4 separate regions of the Homo sapiens genome follow, and regions 2, 3 and 4 are each linked to region 1. The links come from fine-mapping of genetic effects on gene expression. A gene starts in region 1. Each other region holds a variant in brackets. All regions are shown on one strand. Distances are between the middles of the regions. Region 1 holds the start of FAM168A (family with sequence similarity 168 member A). Region 2 overlaps RELT (RELT TNF receptor). Region 3 overlaps RELT (RELT TNF receptor). Region 4 overlaps FAM168A (family with sequence similarity 168 member A).

The links.
Region 2: its variant is fine-mapped to the expression of FAM168A in whole blood (TOPMed, PIP above 0.99).
Region 3: its variant is fine-mapped to the expression of FAM168A in whole blood (INTERVAL, PIP above 0.99).
Region 4: its variant is fine-mapped to the expression of FAM168A in whole blood (INTERVAL, PIP 0.98).

Annotation. Positions count from the first base shown.
Region 1 is chr11:73,595,537-73,600,683 of GRCh38, forward strand. It overlaps FAM168A (family with sequence similarity 168 member A), which reads right to left and starts at 2,576. Exons shown (of 8, transcript NM_015159.3): 1 at 2,387-2,576. RefSeq lists an enhancer at 1,910-2,638 and silencers at 2,530-2,659, 2,790-3,019.
Region 2 is chr11:73,377,973-73,383,119 of GRCh38, forward strand. All of the region lies in intron 1 of RELT (RELT TNF receptor), which reads left to right. Among named protein-coding and RNA genes, the nearest start is that of RELT, 4.1 kb to the left of the region's middle. RefSeq lists an enhancer at 1,493-1,572. The variant G/A (reference allele first, on the strand shown) is at 2,896.
Region 3 is chr11:73,387,296-73,392,442 of GRCh38, forward strand. RELT (RELT TNF receptor) reads left to right here. Exons shown (of 11, transcript NM_152222.2): 2 at 1,817-1,886; 3 at 3,256-3,330; 4 at 3,460-3,626; 5 at 3,849-3,928; 6 at 4,916-5,147. The coding sequence starts at 1,842. Among named protein-coding and RNA genes, the nearest start is that of RELT, 13 kb to the left of the region's middle. RefSeq lists enhancers at 1-776, 696-855, 777-1,724, 1,560-1,669. The variant G/A (reference allele first, on the strand shown) is at 2,160.
Region 4 is chr11:73,480,785-73,485,931 of GRCh38, forward strand. All of the region lies in intron 1 of FAM168A (family with sequence similarity 168 member A), which reads right to left. Among named protein-coding and RNA genes, the nearest start is that of RELT, 110 kb to the left of the region's middle. The variant A/G (reference allele first, on the strand shown) is at 2,816.

The sequences.
Region 1 (5,147 bases):
GCCACTTTATGTTTAACATATTATCACAGTTAATGCAATTAGGTCCATAGAACTGTTTCTCTAAAGATGTTCCCTCCATTTGCACTCCTGTGTACCTTCCATTATCATCGTTCTGCCCTAAGAATGAGCATATCGCTAAGGTTTAAATCGAATTTCTGATGAATAGGTGGAGATGCTGTTTCTGTAGTTAATACAATGCGACTACATCAACATCATTCCCCAAAAAATAAAATAAAAATGACTCAATATGCTTTATTTATTCACATCTGACAGAATTCTGATCACCTGAATTCCTTTGGAAGAAAATTCAATCTTTAGAAATACAGTCCAATTATTCTAAATCTTATCAATGTCAAAAGACAATCATATGAAAAACTCCATCAGTACCAAACCATCTCACCAATGAATATTTATGACATTTCCATATTTCCTGTCTTCTCTGTTTACATAAAGCGGTGGTGCCAAGACTCATCTCAGGATTATTAGCCTGCAATACAATGATGGGCCTAATTGCCTTGCAAACCAGGACACTAACAAATGGCGTCTTCAAGCAATCAATTTAAAGAGGGGGTAAAAAAGGCCCAAGCTCTTTTTGCCTATGTGCTTGTTACCTACCTACAAAATAAATTCAGTCTCATATTTTTCAGGCTCACTCATTAGTTCTCAAGCAAGGAATGCACCCTTAACAATCTCAAGCTCATCAAATCTATTTAAATTTCAAAATGCCTGGCTAGTTTTTAAATACACCAGGAGGAGAGGGGAAAAGAAAAGGCAGAGACATCATATAGAAAGATATCCATTACATTCCAGTTTATCTTCTCCCACCTTTAGTTTGGAAGTATGCTTTTTTCCCCCAACTTACTTTTTATGATATACAAATAACAGAAGACACCCTCCCCTCCTTAATTCTACCTTAACTAAATCCCCTTTCAACTTTACCCTTTGGGCTGACTTGACTTCCAAATTTTACTAATATAAATAAAACAAACAAAAACATCACCCGAACAGATTAAAATGGCCCCTAAGAATGAGAAGGTCTCTTCCGTGTCCCCTGCAAAGTCCCCTCTAACAGCCTTACTGCCTCTCACCCAACCACAGCCACCAAGGCTGTTCATTTAAGTATTCCAACCCTTAACCCTCATGTGTCTCTTGGAGGCCACCCCAATCCTTCACCACCAAAATAATCCAACCCAATTCCCCCCTGCTCTCCAGCACAGCTCACTGTCCCTCTCCATCCTCTCTGCCCCATCCATACCAACAGCTCCAGGTCTCCCATTCCTTAAATTTCCCCTGTGCCACCTCACCATCAGCAACCACCTCCCCAGGCCTACCAGCTCATCTCCGAAAGTCCTTCTCCAAAACTCCCTCTGCCACCTTGGCCAAGGGATATTTTCTTCAAGATACCATCCCCCAACTTTGCTCACCCCTGCCGCTATCCTTTCAATGAAAGCAGCCCAGTGATGTTTTATGTGCCCTCTGCCTTGACTCTGCAACCAAGGAGCCACCATGCCCTTTCCAGTGATTGTAAGATCACCCTAAATCCAACCCACTGTGCCCCACACTCCATTTCCATCCCTGTCCTCCCATTTCGGGCCTGACTTCCAATGTGGCCCCTTCCTGCCAGCTCACCATCACACTCCCCTCACTGAATGTCCCACCTCCACCAACTCCTATTCCAACCTCCATCAGCCCACCCCAGGAAACCCCCAAATTGCACTCTTCTGCTCTATCCTAACCCATGCTATTCCATAAGTCTCCACAAATTCCACCAGCCCCAGATGACAAACACCCACTTCAAGCTTGGGTCTCAACCCATGCCAAGCCCCTCACCCCCAACTCCTGCCACCTCCATCATCCTGCCCCAGGTCCACCCCAAATTCCACCCTTCTGAATTAACACTACGCAGGGCCCTAACCAACCCTGTACATGCCACTCACTCTCCGTTGAAATCATTCCCCTGCCCCTCACCCCAGCTCAGATCCCAAGCTGTCAACTGCTCCAGGCCAAACCCAAATCACCACCCTCATTCAGTCCCCTCCCCCATTAAAAGCCATCCCACCCTAGTCTCATCTTCCACCTCGCCCCAAGACCATCCCGAATTCCAACCCGACGCCCCCACCCCACTCTCCTGTCCCAGGTTGGGTTATTCTCCATCAAAAGTCCTCCTCCCTTGTCGCCCGCCCCCCAACCTGCTTGGGTCCCACCCTCACCCCACCCCCGGCCAGCGCCTGGACAAGTCTCCCCCGCCAGCCCGCCGTTCCATCGCGACCTCAACCCCCTCCCCCCAACCTGCACGGGGGCTCCGCAGCCTCCCCTCTCATTCTCGCCAGCGCCACCGGCCCAGACTCAGGACCAGCGGACCCTGTGGCGGGGGGAGTCTCCTCACCGGTGAGCAGCTGCAGGCGAAAACGGCGGCGGCGGCGGCTGAGGCGGCGATGCCCTTGTCTTCTCCGGAGGCTACGGCGGCGACGCTCTCGCCCGTGTCCAGTAGGGTGGCGGATGGCGCGCGGGGACCGGAGCCTCCTCCTCAGCGACTCGGCTCTGAATCCTCTGCAGTAGCCGCCGAGGAGCCCGACGGGTGGGGGGAGGGGACGCTCGGCTGCGGGCGAGGGAGGAGGAGGCGGAGGGAGGAGGCGGGGGACCGCTCAGAAGGGCAGGGAAGGAGGAGCCGGCGCGGCGCCGCGACACGTCCCACAGCCTCAGAGCGCCGGGACCACAACTCCCGGCATGCCCTGCTTTAGCCCGCGCGCGGCCTGCGCCTCCCGCCGCGAGCCCGGTGCAGAGGGGCCGCGCCCTCTCCGGTCACGGACAGTGGAATAAAGCCAACCATCCGCTGGCGAATTTTGTAGACTCAAAGACCACCTGTGAGGAAAGTCAGGTCGCCCGAGGCCCCATCCCCAAGGGGCCGTACTCGCAGCGTCTCCATCCTCTTTGCATAGACACCCCCCTCCCCCCGCCCACACACACACACACACTCTCTGTCTCTCCCTCTCTCCCTCTCTCCCTCTCTCCCTCTCCCTCTCGTCTCTGTCTCTGGACTACACCTCCCAGCATGCCCCTCAGCTTCCTATTCTCCTTCCGGACCCTTCTCAGACCCGGTACTACAGTTCCCAGGGAGTGTGGTCCCTGCGAAATGCTGGGAGATGGAGTTCTCGGTTCTTCCTCCATGTTAAGAAAAAGAAGTGAAAGAGAGGCAAAAGGGAAGGAATACGCCAGCCCACCGAGGATGGGCCTTGATGGGCTAGATCACCTGTGATTCTGTTCATCCCTCGCCATCTCCGTTTCAGCTGTCTCTCACCAGAACTAATGCCGGAGCTTCCTCGCTGGTCTCCCTGCAAATTTGAGGACGATTCGGCAACTTGAATCCAAACGACAAAGGGCATATCCTCTTCTTGACCCAGCTCCATTACTTTTAAGAATTTACCTTAAAAAGATGATCGAACAATTTCGAAAAGATGAATGCACAAAGTTGTTATATGACGTAGTTAATTATGAAGGGAGTAAATGTTCATCGATAGGGTGCTGCTTAAATAAGACGTGACATATACATACAATGCAATACTAAGGAGCCATTTAAAATGATATAAATCTATTGACATGAAAAGCTATTCACAATTTATTCTTCGGGGAAAAAGTTGATTACACAACAGCATGTCTACACGAGTGCATTTATGTGAGGTTTGACACAATATTCTACAAGCATGGAGAGATTTCAGGAAAGAGGTTCGCCAAAATATTAGCAATGATTATCTTGGGGGAAAGGGTGTCAGATTGCACGTAGGTTTTTTTTGTTTTTTGAGACGGAGTCTGGATCTATAGCCAGGCTGGAGTAAAGTGGGGGCGATCGCAGGTCACTGCAACCTCTGCCTCCCGGGTTCAAGCGATTCTCCTGCCTCAGCCTCCTGAGTAGCTGGGACTACAGGCGCGCGCCACCACATCCAGCTAATTTTTGTATTTTTAGTAGAGATGGGGTTTCACTATATTGGCCAGGATGGTCTCGATTTCTTGACCTCCTGACCTGCCCGCCTCAGCCTCCCAAAGTGCTGGGATTACAGGCATGAGCCACAATGCCCGACTGTAATTTTTGTTTTCATATTGTTTGAATTGTTTAAAAGGAGCACATAACGACTGTTTTTTGTTTTCTTTTTTGTTTTGTTTTAATTGTAAGAGACGTCGTCTCACTATATTGCCCAGGCTGGTTTCAAACTCCTGGCCTCAAGAGACCCTCCTGCCTCAGCTCTCAAAAGTGCTGGGATTACAGGTGTGAGCCACACTACACCTGGACAATTTTTTAAGCTGTGCTACTTCCAAAAAACATAATTTCCAAATCTAACAACCTTTCTTTGCTGCCTAGATGCTTTCCATGGCTTCCCATTGTCTCATTCATGCTTCAGCACTGTGCCTGCCTGGTTTTAATAGTTCCACTATTAAAACAAATAATAGTAGTCACTTCCAATTCATAAAGTTGGAAGGGAGAATTTTCTCAATTTTCAATGCGTCTTCTCAAAATTTTTCCATTTCTGGTCTTTCCACACCCATTTTCTCCTTTTCTCTTACTCATTCTTCAAACTCAAGCCAAAGTCCTACCTTCCCTAGAACATATTTTAGACACACTGGTTTTCCTTATATCTGAATTCTTTTTTGTTTGTTTGTTTGTTTGTTTGTTTGTTTGAGACAGAGTCTTGCTCTGTCAGCCAGGCTGGAGTACAGTGGTGCAATCTCGGCTCACTGCAACCTCCGTCTCCCGGGCTCAAGCAATTCTCCTGCCTCATCCTTCCGAGTAGCTGGGATTACAGGCATGTGCCACCATGCCTGGCTAATTTTTTTTTGTATTTTTAGTAGAGATGGGGTTTCACCATGTTGGCCAGGCTGGTCTTGAACTCCTGACCTCAGGTAATCCGCCTGCCTCGGCCTCCCAAAGTGCTGGGATTACAGGCGTGAGCCACCGCTCCCGGCTTATCTGAATTCTTATAGCAGTGGTTTCTAATCTGTTGGCCAGAGATCACGGTGGGGAGAGGAAGTGAAGAGAGAGGTACAGAGTTATTGTAAAGGGCCTATGCAGCTCTGCCTACACAAAGCTATATGTCTTGCACTTTAAAAAAGTTTTTCTCTTCTTCTGACCCTTGTGTCCAGCTCTTCTAGAATAC
Region 2 (5,147 bases), 220 kb before region 1:
GGTCCTCTGTCACGAAATGGATCCATAGACAATATGGATCCCCAAATCCATAGACATTCACTTCTCTGCCTGGGTGTCCTTTCTTCAGTTCCTTGGGTTGGGGGAGAGTGGGGAGAGACTTGTTCCCCAGGAGTGGTCTCTGGTCTGGGAGGCTAAGTTCTTGCTGGAGAGCTGGAGCGGTACCCTTTCGCCATCTGGGCAAGACCCTTCTGAGGCCCCTTCTCCCGTATGAAGGTCTGTGGGGTTCATGCAGGGTGGGGTGGAAGCTGAGCTCCCTAGTCTAGGAGAGGGTGGCACTTGCTGTAGAATCTGGAAGTTCTGTCTTCTGCTGTCGTCCTCTGAAAATGCTGATTACATTCTAGGGGTGGGGGACAGGGTGGGGGACAGTGTCAGGCACTGTTCTGAACACTTCATGGTGTTCTGTCTTGTTGAATCTTCGCAGTGATTCTGAGATGTAGTGACTGTGTTTCAGAGAAAGGAACTGAGGATCAGAGAAGCAAAGTGACTTGGCCAAGGTCATACAGAGTCAGGACAGTGCCAGGACTGGAATTCAGGTCTTCTGACCCCAGAGACCAGTGAGATGCTGGGAGAGAGGATCACCCACCTTCCTAATAACTGCTCATGGCTTTCCTGGACTTCTGTCTCTCAAACTTGGGCTAGTAGGCGTGGCCTAGCCAGGGCATTACATTGTGAGTTCTAAGTATGATGTGTGTGTGTGCACACATGTCTGGAACACTGGGGATGGGTGGGTTACATGGTCTTCCTGTTCCTCCCCAGACTTCACTCCCAACCAGACATCACCAGAAAGTCCTGTCCCCTGCCTTCTAGAGCCTGGACCTGGCTTTGGGGGTGTCCCCATGGCTTTGAAGAGTGTATGGAGTTAGCAGCACAGCCTAGGGGTAGCAGGGAAAATTGAGAGTCCCAGGTGACCTTCATCATACTTGAGAGGCCCCCTCCCCTTTGCAGTTGCTCTAGAGGCATTTCCCCAAATCCACCTGCATGTTATGGTGGGGAGCAGACAGGGAGTGACCTTGAGCTGGTCCCTACTCTCTCTGGGCCTCGGTCTCCCTGTTCTTCCCAGAGACCCCTTTTGGCTCTGACCACTGTTGCCACTTGGCCAAGAACTGGAACTGGGGATCAGGGTGTCCCTCGGTCCTCTCTGCAATGACTGGAGCTGTGCTTCTTGGGGCTGATGAAAATAGCTGTCGTGGTCTCTAGGGGCTGAGCCGGAGTTATTTCCATCCTCAACAAAGAGGTGGAAATAGCTTAGGGCCTGGGAGGGGGAGCAAGAGGAGAAGGGTTAACTTCTCCTTATCCCAGCCTTAAAGGAGGCCCCCAGCCTCAGCCTGTGCCCTGGCCAAGCCAAACCTTTCTGGGAACTTGGGCCTCTGGGGATGACAGTGGGGCCAGGCTGGGTTTCCACTTGTGACCACAGTTGGGACTGGTGTGATAGCTGCTGGAGGGAGGGCCCTATGTCTAGCCAAGGAGGGGAGATATTGAGGGCCAGTCAGCACCTGCCCCTACTCATAGGGTCAGGCCCAATCTCATTTCACAGAAGGAGAGATTGAGGTTCTGAGAATTCAGGGACTTACCCTAGGACTCCTAGAACCTTCACCTTCCAGACGCGGTACCTGCCTTCTGTCCTGAGTTTGTCATTCTGTGTCCACACTTTCCCTGGCGGCTGGAGGTTGGCCAGCACTGGAAGCAGGCCCAAGACACACCTTCTGGACGTCGGCCTGCCTCATATTCCAGCTCTGGCCTTGCCATCCCTGCCCAGGCTCTGGTTCTAGCTTCTGTGCTTCCACGTCGGCTCTCCCGCACACTGCCAGAGTGACCTCCATAAAATAACTTGCTTTTCGCCTACAAAGTGTAGTTCAAACTCCTCACCTGGCAATGAGGCCTTTCCTTCCAAGGCCTTTCAGAATTTGCATCTTTACCCTCGCCTCTCCTTGCCAGATGCCTTGTCTGCCTTGCCTTTGCTTTTAAAGCTTCCCTCTTTCTAGAACCCTCTTGGCCATCCAGACTATAGCCCCAGCTCCACCTCACCCAGGAAGCCCTCCTGGCCCGAAATTAGTCTCCCTTCATTGTTGTGGGCCACCTGCCAGGTGTCCTCCCTCACTGCTGGGGAATGGGCACAGGTTTGGGGCACCTGTGGGTACCGCATGCTCAGCTTGGTGGGGCCAGCGTGGCCAGTAGCCCACCCCCTCCCACTGCCGTCTCTGTGCTGACGAGACCTCTTCCTGAGGAAGGGCAGCTGCTCTAGGATCCCAGCACCTGTGTGCTGGGAGGCACCGGGAGATTTGCACCCAGGTCTCTGGTGCTCACCATGACCTGAGGCAGAATGTGTGCTGGCGGGTGGGGGCAAAGACTCACGGCCACTCCTGTGGGTAGGGGGCAAGTGTAGTGCTTGTCATGGTCCTCGACATCTTGAGCCAGTAGAGGCAACTGTCCCTGCTCAGGCCCTGTAGTGTGCCAGGCTCTGGGCCCAGCATTTCCTCACAACAGCACTCACCCGGGCCCTCTCCTTTCCAAGTTGGTATGGGGGAACCTCGACTCAGAGAGCAGCCCTAGGCTGAGTCACGCAGCCACTTGTGTTGTAGTCAGGTACTCCAGATCCTACCCAGCCCCCAGCCTGGTCTCCAGGCAGGAGGTGAGGGTCGAGGGGTTTGTCTGACAATTCTAACATTAGTTTCTCAAGAAGGGCCAGGCTGGTCAGCACCCAGTCTGGCTGGGCGGGACCTGACTACTTCTGTTATGGGGCCAGCCCTTCTGCCAGGTCAGCAGGAGAGAGGACCAGAGAGGAAGGGGTTTTGCCTGAGGTTACTCAGCAGGGTGTGTTTGGCGCCATTCCCCACTCAGGATCGATGGGGGAGCAGGGATGTGGTCTCTGGACAG[G/A]GAGAATACCCACTGTGTGCTGAACCCGTGTCTTTCTGGGCCTAGGCTTGGTGCTGCTGAGTGGGGCTGGAGTGGCAGAGAGGACAAGAGCCAATGCTGCATCCCTACTCTGCCCATCCGTGGGATTATGGCCCGGGAGGCTGTCACATCCTCAGCCTTATACTCCTGGGGGTCATCATTCCCTCCAAGCACAGGCAGGGAAACCAAGGCCTAGAGAGAGGAGGCACTTGCCAGGCCCCAGTGTCACTGGGATCCAAACCCAGGTCTGCTGGCCTTGAAGACCAGAGTTCTTTCCTAGGCCACTCTGGGAAAGATGAGAGCTCTATAAATAAGCTGCCCATGTGGCTGTGAGCAAGTGCCCTGGCTAGTTGTCACAGACAGAGGGGGACAGCGGGACCTCTACAGCCAGTTAGAGTCAGGGTCTGAGTGTGCAGGTAGAGAGAGGAGTGGGGGCTTCCAGAGGGGGGACCTGCGCTTAGCCCAGTGCATGCACTGTGAGGAGGAGCAGTGAGAGGGGAGGACCTTGGCCACCCACACCACCAGCCTGCTGCATGCCTGGCCTCCTGCACAGACCCTTTCCCTCCCTCCCTCAAGGAGCCTCACCCCTTCTCGAGGAATCAAGGGAGACTGAAAACTGATGGCAGGGGTGAGGGGTGGGGGAGTCTGGAGAGGAGAGGGGGCCCTCTTGACAGGGAGGCTGGGGAGGCTTCCTACAGGAGGGGATGCCTGGCCCAAGGCCTGATTGTAAGAAGAGCCCCTGTTGCCTGTGAACGCTGAGTCCTCCACCACACCATGAGGTCAGCTGCACTGGTGTAATTGGGAAACAGGCTTGGGAAGTTGGGGCTGGGTTCCTGACTGCTGAACTACCCCTTACATTCCTGACCATGGCCCTGGCTGGTGTGGGAGCAGGTGGACGTAGGCCTGTACAGGGGCTGGGACATGGGCACCCAGGGCCCTCCCAGAGAGGCCGAGGCCCCTCTACTTGTGCTGCCAGGGTTTACGTGGAGTTCCCCAAAGCACTCTTGCCACACCCAAGCCTCTGGGTGACCTCGGCTGGCTGTTGCTTGGTCCTGAGCTTGGGTTCCTCTGGCCCTCGTGGAGCTGTGTTGAGAGCCCTCAGTATCCCATGAGGCAGGGACTAGCACCCCTGTTTGCAGAGGAAGACCCCGAAACTCAGGGAGGGTAAGTAACCTGCCCAAGGCCATCGATCTGCGAAGTGACAGAGCCAGAGTCTGAACCCTGGTGGGTTGCTCCAGGGCCCAACCTTGTCTCCTCCCTGCTCCACCACTGCACTTGCACTGACCCCAGTCCTCAGCGTAGCTCCACTGGGTAGGACCTGACCTGGGATGGCCCTGGGGGCGCCTCTTTCCCCAGCACCGCAAGTCTGGGGAGAGTTGGAGAATGGGGCAGACCAGGGCTGTGGTCTCCCCCAAGTCCCTCCCAAAGCCTCTGCCCAGGTCTTCCAGGTCAGGGTGATTGGGGGCAGGGCCCATGCTGAGCACATTAGGGACTTGGGATCAGTTTTATGGCCGGGGCAGGTGGCAAAGGTGGCTTCTTGGAGGAGGTAGCAGAGCATGAGCCGGGGCTGCAGTGAGGTGTCCTTCAGCACCCCCAGACCCGTTGCTGTCCTGTCTCAGGGCCAGGGTTGGCAACACAGGGCTGTCTGTGGTGCTGAGAGGTTGACGGTGGCCAGAAGCAGTGGAGATACCAGGCCTGGGTGGCTCAGGCAGGGGTCGCCTGCCAGTTGCCCCTACTCCAGGGTAGGTAAACTTCATCTCCTTCAAGGTGAAGTTGTTACAGGCTACCACTTGACCTCTCTGAGCCTCAGTTTTTTCTGTGTGAAGCATGGAACACTGTCTTTGAGGGGTTCAGTGAGACCCAGCTTAGAGTGGGAAGGGGACAGGCAGTAGTGCTCAGTGAGGAGGGTTAGGGAGCCTCCTCTCTGCCCGAGATAACTGTCTGGTCTCAGACATCCCTCCTCTAGCCCCAGACTCGGCCCAGGAAGTGGGGCAAGGATTGCACCTGTACCATACCCAGACTGGGAGGAGCTGGGTGGGCCAGGTGTGGCCACCTCAGCCCTTTTCTTGGCCTCAAGGGGCCAATTTAGCCCCCTTAGCCTCAGCCCCACCCCATCCACCTGAGCCACTGAAACCCAGGCCTGGTGGCAGCCAGGAGGTCTGAGGTGCAGAACCATGCCCAACTTCTGGGGGTGTTGCTGAGAGTGGGCTGGGGAGCAGCTGCTGCCTGGCCTC
Region 3 (5,147 bases), 210 kb before region 1:
GGGGAAGTGAAGCCTGAGGACTTGGGGCTCGTGGTCAGGTCTGTGGGTTAGATCCCTCAAAGGACAGAGGAGGGGCCATGGGGAGACAGGCTCGAGGTGGGAGCTGGGCCCTGACAAGGGCACAGGACACTTTGGGGCAGAAACTGGAAGGAAGACTTGTGACCAAATTTAAGGAGTGACAGGGGACCCTCCCCAAATAGCCTGGGGGTGCCATCTGTTGGGTGTTGACTGCCAGGTGTGGCCTCCACCCTATACTGTGGCCCTACCTTCTCCTGTCCCTGGCTTTCCCCTGAGCTGGCCTGGGACCCAGAGTGGCTGCCAGTGACCTGGAGAGTCCTGAGATGATGTAACTGCTGCCCACTCCCTCCCCTGAGTGTAACTCAAACCCTGGGCCCCTCTGAGATCTGCCAAGAGGGAGGGCGGGTGGACAGATCGGTTTCCTGGGCTGCTATTCTAGGTGGGAGGGCCGGGCTGCCTGCAGGGAGAGGACTCTGAGTGATTTGGGACTACCACAGGAGGCGCTTTTCTCACCTCACCGGCCTTGGAGTCACAGCGGGGGCCTCAGCCGCGGCGGCCCTGAGCCAGTGGCTGGGTTCCCAGGCTGCCCCTGGGCTTAAGAGGCTGCGTGTGGCCTGAAGAGCACGGCTTTCCTCAGCCTCGTGCCCCTGAAGCCAGGCCTCCAGGAAGTACACAGCGGACTTCCTTGCTCTGCCACCTGTCCCTTCTGCTGTCTGATGTGAATCCTTTGTCCTGCTGTGTCCGCCTCGTCCACTGGCCGGAGGCTTCTCCAGAGCAGGCCACCGTCTGGGCCTGGGGGCCTCAGTCTCAGACCGGTGGGCCGTGACGCCACCATGGATATTTCTCTGAAGTATCACACACTGCACTCCCACTCTGCTTTATTTCGTTTCTTGGCACTTACCACCAAATGGCAGGGGCACCTCTCTGTTTGCAGTTGGGTCTCCCCTGGGATGGAGCTCCCTGCAGACAGGGACCTTGTCTGTCTTGTTCATACCGATTTCTCCAGTGCCCGCACGCAGTAGGTGCTGGAGAGATGACAAAGACAGAGCACTGGCTGCCGTGACCACCCCAGCCCCATAGGTCTGCCAGGGGAAGAGCTGTGGCCAGACATGTTCCAGCCTCAAGGGAGGAGTCAGCCTCCCTGGAAGAGGTGTGGACAGTGGCCATGCAGAAGGACCAGGACCTAGATGGGGTGGGGAGCTGTGGGAGCCAGACCCACTTTGGGGAAAGCTTCTAGAGAAGCTTCTGGAAAGAGAGGCCTTCGTGTTGAGCTTTGAAGGGTAAAGGAAAAGGCCTTCCTTGGACCAGAACCAGCAGGAGTGAAGGCAGAGGCCGGGCATGCTTGCAGACCTGTGAGGAGGAGGCGGGGGGAGCCTGAGCCTGGAGCGCTGGGCTGGAGTGTGGAGGCCGGGCTGGGGTGTTGGGTGTTGGTTGCAACCCTGTCATCACGGACACAGGCCGCCACACGCGCTTCCTTCCCCTGCTGATGCCTCGGGGCACCTGGCAGTTTAAGGAAGGGGAAGGAAGCCCTTCCTCCTCTGGGAAGCCTCCCAGCCTGCAGAGCCTTCTTCCTGCCTTCCTGCCTGTGCTGCCCCGTGAGGCCGGCTCCCAGGCAGGGCAGCCCCCTCTGCTTGGGCCTGTGCTTGCGGGTGTGGAGCCGGCCTCCCCGGGCTCTGCCTGCCCAGCAGCACCTTGCCTGCTCCCCATGAGTCCTGTCATCCTGGAAGTGGTGCTGAGGGGACAGCAGCTGCCTGCCTGTCCCTGCCGCTCTGCCGAGCCTCCTCTCCATCTGCCCTAGGCCGGCGACCACCAGGGGCCTGAGGATGAAGCCAAGTCTGCTGTGCCGGCCCCTGTCCTGCTTCCTTATGGTGAGCTGGGGATGGGCCCTGGGAAGGAGAAAAGCCGCACCCTCAGCCCTGCAGCCCTCCAGCAAGAGGGTGCAGACACTCCCGGGGAACCCCCTGCTGGGCAGGGCTCAGTTACTCAGCTCGTCAAGAATCTGAGGCAGCTGGACCCTAGGAAGCACCTCTGGGCCCACCCAGGCTTGTCAGGGAGATGGAGAATGAAGGGCTTGCTGGCATTTATGGGCAAGGCAGGCATGGCTGAGGGCAAGATGCCCATTGGCACGCAGGCATGAGAAC[G/A]GAGCCCAGCCCAGAGGGTATGCTGGGCACCAAGAGGAAACTGGGCAAAAGAGGCCTGGGATTTGGACCCTGAGAGCCATAGCACCTCAGGTGCTGGGGTTCAAGATCTGTATTGGTCTGGGGGATCCCAGATTCCAGGTCCCAGGATCACAGGATCAGGCCAGCTGCCCGGAGCTGCAGGCAAGTCCACATTACAGACTTGCAGCATCTTGGGGTCTGCCCTGGGGCCCATCTTTCTGCTGTGACGCTAGAAGCTCAGGGAGGGTGAGACTTGGCCTTGGGCCTTGCTAAGGGTTGCTCCATGTACAGGAGGCCTTCCAGCCTTAGCAGGTGCTGGGAGCCGCTCTGGGGTCTGAGGAGATCCCTATTCCATCTCCAGGGCAGCTGATGGTAGCCTCATCCAGCCTAGGCCAAATTGGGGGACTCTAGGAGGGATTCAGGAGAGACAGTTCATTCCTAAGAATGGGAAGCAGAGAGAACTCCTAGTGAAATGGGCTGGGGACACACACTGAGAAGATGGAGCTTTCTTTTGGGATGCGTCTCCCTGTTTGGGTGTGTGGGTGTGAATGGGGTAGCCTCGCCTTGAGGGAAGATTGCAGAGGAGGATGTGGTCCTGGAGACTTTCGCTGAAGGGAGAGCCCAGAATAGGAAGCGCCACCTGCAGACTTGGCTCCAGGGATTATAAATGAGGCTGGTTAATGATATGCCCAGCTGTGATGGGGCCAGGGATGGACCCAAAGTAGGAGGAAGTGGGGGCAGAATACGAGAGAGGATTCGGAAGCATTTCCTCCTCATCGTTCTGGTTAGCTGGAAGGGCTTGAGATCCTGATGTGGCCTTATCTGGGGCTTTCCAGCACTTTCCAGAGCCAGATGTGGCTCTCTCCTTGCCCAGGTACTGGTCTTGCAGCAGGTCTGGGACAGGACAGGTTTTCCTCAGTGTGAGGGATTGAGGTTAGAAGAGTGTGTCCCTGAAGCCCGGGTGGGGTAGTCAGTGGTCCCTACCACTGGGGTTTCAGGAAATAGGTGGGGGATAGATGACCCCAGAGACCCCACACCCAGCACTTTCTGCCTCTTTCAATGCCTACTGTTCTTCTAGCTGCTGCCCTGGCCTCTCGCCACCCTGACATCAACAACCCTTTGGCAGTGCCCACCTGGGGAGGAGCCCGACCTGGTGAGCATTGCCCTGCTCTCCTGCCTGTCCTGGGAGGGCCCTGAGGGCCAGGGGCAGAGTCCTGTGCCTGGCCCCCAAGGGTCCTCAGGCTTGGCTCCTGGCCATGCTCTCACCCTTTACCTCCCACAGGACCCAGGGCAGGGCACATTATGCAGGCCCTGCCCCCCAGGCACCTTCTCAGCTGCATGGGGCTCCAGCCCATGCCAGCCCCATGCCCGTTGCAGCCTTTGGAGGAGGCTGGAGGCCCAGGTGGGCATGGCAACTCGAGATACACTCTGTGGAGACTGCTGGCCTGGGTAAGCCAAAGGGAGTGCGGGGAGGGCTCCTGGCTGGGTGACCAGGACTCTGGATCCTGGGGCCCCAGCCTTATTGTACCCTGAGCAGGCCTCATTCTTCCCATCTGTGAAATGGGATGGGGCAGGACCACGGAGGGTGCCTGGTAGGAAGGAATCCAGCCTCTCCTAAGGATAGTGTTTGGGGAAACTTCTGGGCCTCAGTGGTATCTTCCCTCCTCGCAGGTGGTTTGGGCCTTGGGGGGTTCCCCGCGTTCCATGTCAACCATGTTCCTGGGCACCTCTGGGTACTCATGGCTGTGATGGTGAGTGGCAGACTGGGGCTAGGACTGGTGCAGGGGTATGTGCGGGAGGGGCCAGTGAGTTGGAGCCCAGCAGCCTCTGCAGTGTTCATGTGGGGGCAGTGGGGTCCTTCTTCCAGCCCAGGGCAGGGCGTGCAGCCAAAGGGTCTCCAGCAGGGCACAGTCAGCCGCTCCCCTGGCTGTTTCTGCCCACCATGCTTCCGAGTGGCAGAGAGTGTCCTGCAGATGGCAGCCACAGCTGGGGGCTGGGGACTCACATACTGACCTGTCCCCTGTCCCCATCCCTTCAAAGAGATTCATGCCAGCCAAGTGCAGTGGCTCATGCCTGTAATCTCAGCACTTTGGGAGGCCAAGGCAGGAGGATCACTTTGAGACCAGCTTGGGCAACATAGCAAGACCCTGTCTGCAAAAAATAAAAATAAAAAATTAGCCGGGCGTGGTGGTGCTACTCGGGAGGCTGAGGCGGGAGGATTGCTTGAGTCCATGATTTTCATGCTGCAGTGAGCTGTGATCGCCCCACTGCACTCCAGCCTGGGCAACAAGTGAGACCCTGCCTAAAAAAACCCATGCAGATGAGTGTGCGCATGCAAACACTCACATACCCACACGCACCTCCTCCCGCCACTGAGTCAGTCACCCCCTGAGGCACTAGATTCATGGCCAGGCCACAGGGAGGCAGATCCCACGTCCCTGTGCCCAGACATGTGTCCTGTGTGCCATCTCTTCACCCCCTGACCCCAGCGTGAGGGGAGGGTGGGGCTGGGTGTCTGGCCGTCCTGAGGAGGCCTTGTTCAGGACAATGCTTCGATGGCCAGAAGGGAAAACAGGAGGGCAGTGGGTTGACCTTTGCATCCCCAGCATGGCGGGGAGTGGGCTCCCCTGGGCACATTGGCTCTCCTGCAGCCCCCACTGACTCGGGCCCTGGGCCCCTGTCTCTCTGTGTTTGTGTCACTCTGCTTTTGTCCTGCCTCCATCGTCTGTGATGCTCAGAGTGGGGGCGGCGGGCCCGACGTGGCGTGGAGGTGGCAGCAGGGGCCAGCAGCGGTGGTGAGACACGGCAGCCTGGGAACGGCACCCGGGCAGGTGGCCCAGAGGAGACAGCCGCCCAGTACGCGGTCATCGCCATCGTCCCTGTCTTCTGCCTCATGGGGCTGTTGGGCATCCTGGTGTGCAACCTCCTCAAGCGGAAGGGCTACCACTGCACGGCGCACAAGGAGGTCGG
Region 4 (5,147 bases), 110 kb before region 1:
CCAGAAACTCAAACCTGGGTCTACAGACACCAAGTCCAGTGTTCTTTCTATGATATCATGCTGTTTCACAATCCAGATGTATTATCTAAAACGGATGTAATTTTGAAATAGCATTTTTCTGCCTTCACACTCTACAATACAGCAGACTTGATATTTTGAGTTCCCTTGAACATGCCATACTCTCTTGTCTCTGAGTCTTTACACATGCTGTTTTGTTTTTAATACCATCGTTCTCCATCATTTCTGGTTTCTCTCACTCATCTTTCCTAGCTCCTTCCCTCTATCCCTCAGTCTGGATAATTCTTCTTCTTCTTTGAAGATGCAGAGTATCACTATATTGCCCAGGTTGGACTCAAACTCCTAGGCTCAAGTGATCCTCCTGCCTCAGCCTCCCACGTAGCTGGGACTACAGGCACGTGCCACCATGCACAGCTTCTGGATAATTCTTACTCTTCTTTTTAGGGTTCAGTTATGTGCAACTTTCTCTGGGATGTTTCTGTAACATTTATCACACTATAATTGTATCCCATCCCTGACTGTAAACCCCATGAGAGCAGTTTTGTCTTGATCAGACTTTCATCCCTAATACCTAGCACAGTCAGGCACAGAGTACCAGGGTTTCACAACCACATCACACAATGGCTTTAAATTATCACATATCTCTGAAGCAGAATTATAATTTGCTAGAAATGGATTGCTGCAGACAGACTTTCTATAACACCCCCACATATTAAAAATTGTGATCAGGGATTTCTAGAGAGACAATAAATCAGCAATCCTCAGAGTCTCTCTTTAACGGTTACTTACAAGAGGTTACATTTGCAATGCAAATATATAAGCTAAATTTTTATCTCCTTAGTCCAATAAAGGCCTGTGATATAGTATAAAAATATTGGGGCTCCTCTTCAAAAGTACAAACTGCCATATTACCTATCACATGTAGTTAGAGAGAGCTAGCTGGAAGAGGTCTGTGGCATGGCATCTGCTATGGTCTAAATATGTCTCCCAAAATTTATGTGTTGGAAACTTAATCCCAAATGCAACAGTGTTGGGAGATAGAGCCTTCTGGGAGGTCTTCAGGTCATAAAGGCTCTGCCGTCATGAATGGATTAACATCCTTATAAAAGGGTTTGATGGAGGAAGTTCATCCTTTCATAGCCTTTCCACCTAGAGCCATGTGAGGACACAGCATTCCTCCTCTCCTCTGGAGGACACAGCATTCAAGGTGCTGTCTTAGAAACAGAGATGGAACTCTTACCAGACAATGAACTTGCCTTGATCTTGGACCTCCCAGCCTCTAGAATTGTAAGAAATAAATTTCTGTTCTTTATAAATTACCCAGTCTCAGGTGTTTTGTTACAGCAGCACAAAATACACAAAGACAACATCCAACAGCCTTTTTTTTTTTTTTTTTTTTTTTTTAAAGGGGGAGAATACTGAGGCATAGAGAAGGGAAGGGACTACCCTAGAAATGCACAGAAAGTCATGGTTGTGGACAGGGCTCTGAGCAAAACCCAAGCCTCCTGACTTTAGATTGGAGGCTTTCTACCATAAATCATCTTGATACTCTTCTCTGGATGGACAGATGAACAACTGGATAGAAAGACCGACAAATAAATATATAAACTATGTGAAAGCATACTTCCAGGAAAGCCCCTCCCCACCTTTTGCTGGTCATAAGTCTTCCTGGGTATTTTAGATCTATCTGTCATGAGACATAGGATACTGAGGGAATGTGAAGAAATACAGGTGTTTGTTGAAGAACCCACAGAGTCAAGGGGTTCTACCAGAATATATTAGTTTTTTGAAGCAAACCTATGAGGCCCACTAGATTATAAATTCTCAACAGCACGTTTATAGCATGCAAAATAATCACCTTCCCTGAGGAAGCAATATGTGTGAAATGTCACCTAGAAATTTCATATAATGGTTAAGAACAAGTTTTTTTTGTGTTGTTTTGTTTTTTTCTTTTGAGACAGAGTCTCGCTCTGTCACCCGGGCTGGAATGCAATGGCGCAATTTCAGCTCACTGCAACCTCCACCTCCTGGGTTCAAGCGATTCTCCTACCTCAGCCTCCCAAGTAGCTGGGATTAAAGGCGTGAGCCACCACGCCCGGCTAATTTTTTGTATTTTTAGTAGAGACGAGGTTTCACCATGTTGGCCAGGCTGGTCTCCAACTCCTGTCCTCAGGTGATCTGCCCACCTCAGCCTCCCAAAGTGCTGGAATTATTTGGCGCACCCAGCCAAGAACAGGTTTTTAAGCCACAGTTAACAGCTGTGAGGCCTTGGATAACTTAATCTCAGTTTCTTCTTCTGTGTAGTGGGAAATACTAGTGGTATCAATATTCCAAGAATGTTGGAAAAATTAAATGAAATAATATATGTTCTGCCTGAGCACATGTAAACACGATAAATTGTGGTTTTTATCATTATTTTGCCTAGAGGAACATCCTCATCACATGCAACTGTCAACAACCAAGACCTACAGTGTCCATAGGGACCCAAGGCACTGGACTGTCCCTTTCCCAGGTCTAGGGCTTTAGAAGGGTAATTACTGAGCCTAAAACGAGTAAGGAAAGTGTTCATTTCACCTTGAGGCTATCTGCCACAGGAAGACAATTACCTCCTCTATAAAACAGAAATACTACCACTTAATATAAAGAATTGCTATGAAGATGCTATGGAGGATAAAAGTAACAAAGTAATATAATCATATCTGTGTTCTAGAATAATATTTCATGGGAAGATGAAGGATGGGTTAGCAAAGGAGAAACAGAAAGTCTTAAAGCAGCTATCCAGGTTAAGGAAATGAAG[A/G]TCTGAACTAGAAAGGAAAGCTAAAACGGAAAAGAAGGAAAGAATATAGGAAAATATTTTGCAGTCGGAACTGACAGAATTTGAAAATTCTCTGTATGCAGGGCTTGAAGAGGGGAAAGTCAGAGGTTTCTGAGGTAAGCATTCAAAGATGGTGTTCATTTGGAAGAAGTAGAGACAAAGATGTCCAACAGACAACTGGGAATCTGGAAATACTGATTTGGGAGATGATGGTTGCTGTGAACTAATTACCCACCAACCATTATTTTTATTAGCTTAGAGGTTAGCAGAAGAGTCCAGCAAGAGTATAAAGGCAGTAAGGAATGAAGATTGTATGGGGGAAGTATAATAGCACAAGAGAATATTGTCAGATGTAATAATTCAGAGCCAAACAGGGCTCTCAGAAAGAATGTCTTTTGAACCTTCTCAGTCGTTAAAGAAGCAAGCCTGCTTGGTTCCCAATGTACTTTCTTGCTGCTTCCTTCCTCCCTCCTTATCTTCAGTCAATAAACCTTTACTGGGTCTTTATCTTATGCCACTTCCAGCATCAGCGCTGAGGATACAGAGTACGTTATATACCATAACTGTTAACATCTTTAATTTTAACAGATGTTTAATGTTAACATCTTTAATTTTCACAGTAACTTTATTTATTATCCCCGTTTTAAGGATGTATAAGCTGAATAGCCCAGCCTATGAGGAACACTCTCCTCTGAGCTTTCATAGTCCTTACAAATTTTATATCACATAGTACTCTGTATCATCAGGTTTTCTTAAATAACCATAATTTATTCATATCCTTTTCTTCCCCAGGGTACAGCACAGGACCAACTACACACTACAGGTATTCAGTATTTGATGATTGTATTATTCTGGGTTCTCTAGAGGGGCAGAACTAAGAGGAGAGAGAGATATATATAGATATATATATCTATATATCTATATATCTATCTATATCTATATATCTATATATCTATATATCGATATCTATCTATATATCGATATCTATATCGATATATATCTATATATAGATATCTATATCGATATCTATCTATCTATATATAGATAGATATAGATATGTATCGCTATAGATATATAGATATAGATATATATAGATATATATATAGATATATATCGATATATAGATATATAGATATATAGGAATTTATTAAGTAGTATTAACCTACAGGATCCTAAGATCCTACAATAGGCCATCTGCAAGCTGAGGAGCAAGGAAGCCAGTCCAAGTCCCAAGCTGAAGAACCTGGAGTCCGATGTTCAAGGACAGGAAGCATCCAGCAAGGGAGAAAGATGTAGCCGGGGTAAGTCAGTCTGGCCTTTTCACATTTTTCTGCCTGCTTTATATTCAACGGTAGCTGATTAGATGGTGCCCACCCAGATTAAGGGTGGGTCTGCCTTCCCCAGCCCACTGACTAAAATATTAATCTCCTTTGGCAACATCTTCACAGACATACCCAAGATCAATACTTTGCATCCTTCAATCCAATCAAGTTGACACTCAGTATTAACCATCACTTTTATTTTAACAACCATCATGTTGTTAAATATACATAACACATCTAAAGGACTGTTTTAAAGTCATTCCATTGACCAAGTTTTTACATGAGATCCTAAAAAGTAGTAATTTCTTACTAATTCATTCAGCAAATCCCTAAGTACTAGATCTGAGCTAATCACTGGTACTGGATCTAGGAGAAACAAATCACACACAGACCCTGCCATCAGGTTTATTGTGGCATCCACTAATGTCACCTATTGTTTATAATGAGTTCTACTTCCTTCAGACATTAGAACCAGAGATACACGTGTCTTTTGAATATTCAAACACTTAATAGGAATAAACTATCAGCTGAAAGAATACGTGAATGAATGATAGACAATCTGAACCTTGGACCAGGCCTTGGTCTGGTCACCGGAAAGCTGAGCGTTCTTAGCAATGAGCAAAAACTTCTAGTACTAAATTTACCCCAGCTTTTTTACTAAATTTACTATATTATCCTATTTCCCCTTCACTGATAATCTGTTTGTTTTTCGTCCTATTTTATTACGTGTATTTTAAAAATTCATTCCCTTTAGGAAAAAACCATAGGTATACAGAATGTAATCAATCAACCTGAAGATGGTATAATGAGTCTCCTACTTTGTCCAGATGCCCTGCTGAAGGTTTGGAGTCAAACCAGGCCCAATGTGCAAGTCAGCAGCAAAGTCAGTAGCTACTACTACCTAAGTTTAATAAAAAGGGTCTCTGGTGGAGGAACTGTGTTGCTTCAGAGCAGCCAGGGAACTCTATTCTTCAAAGCCCACCCTCTTCAAG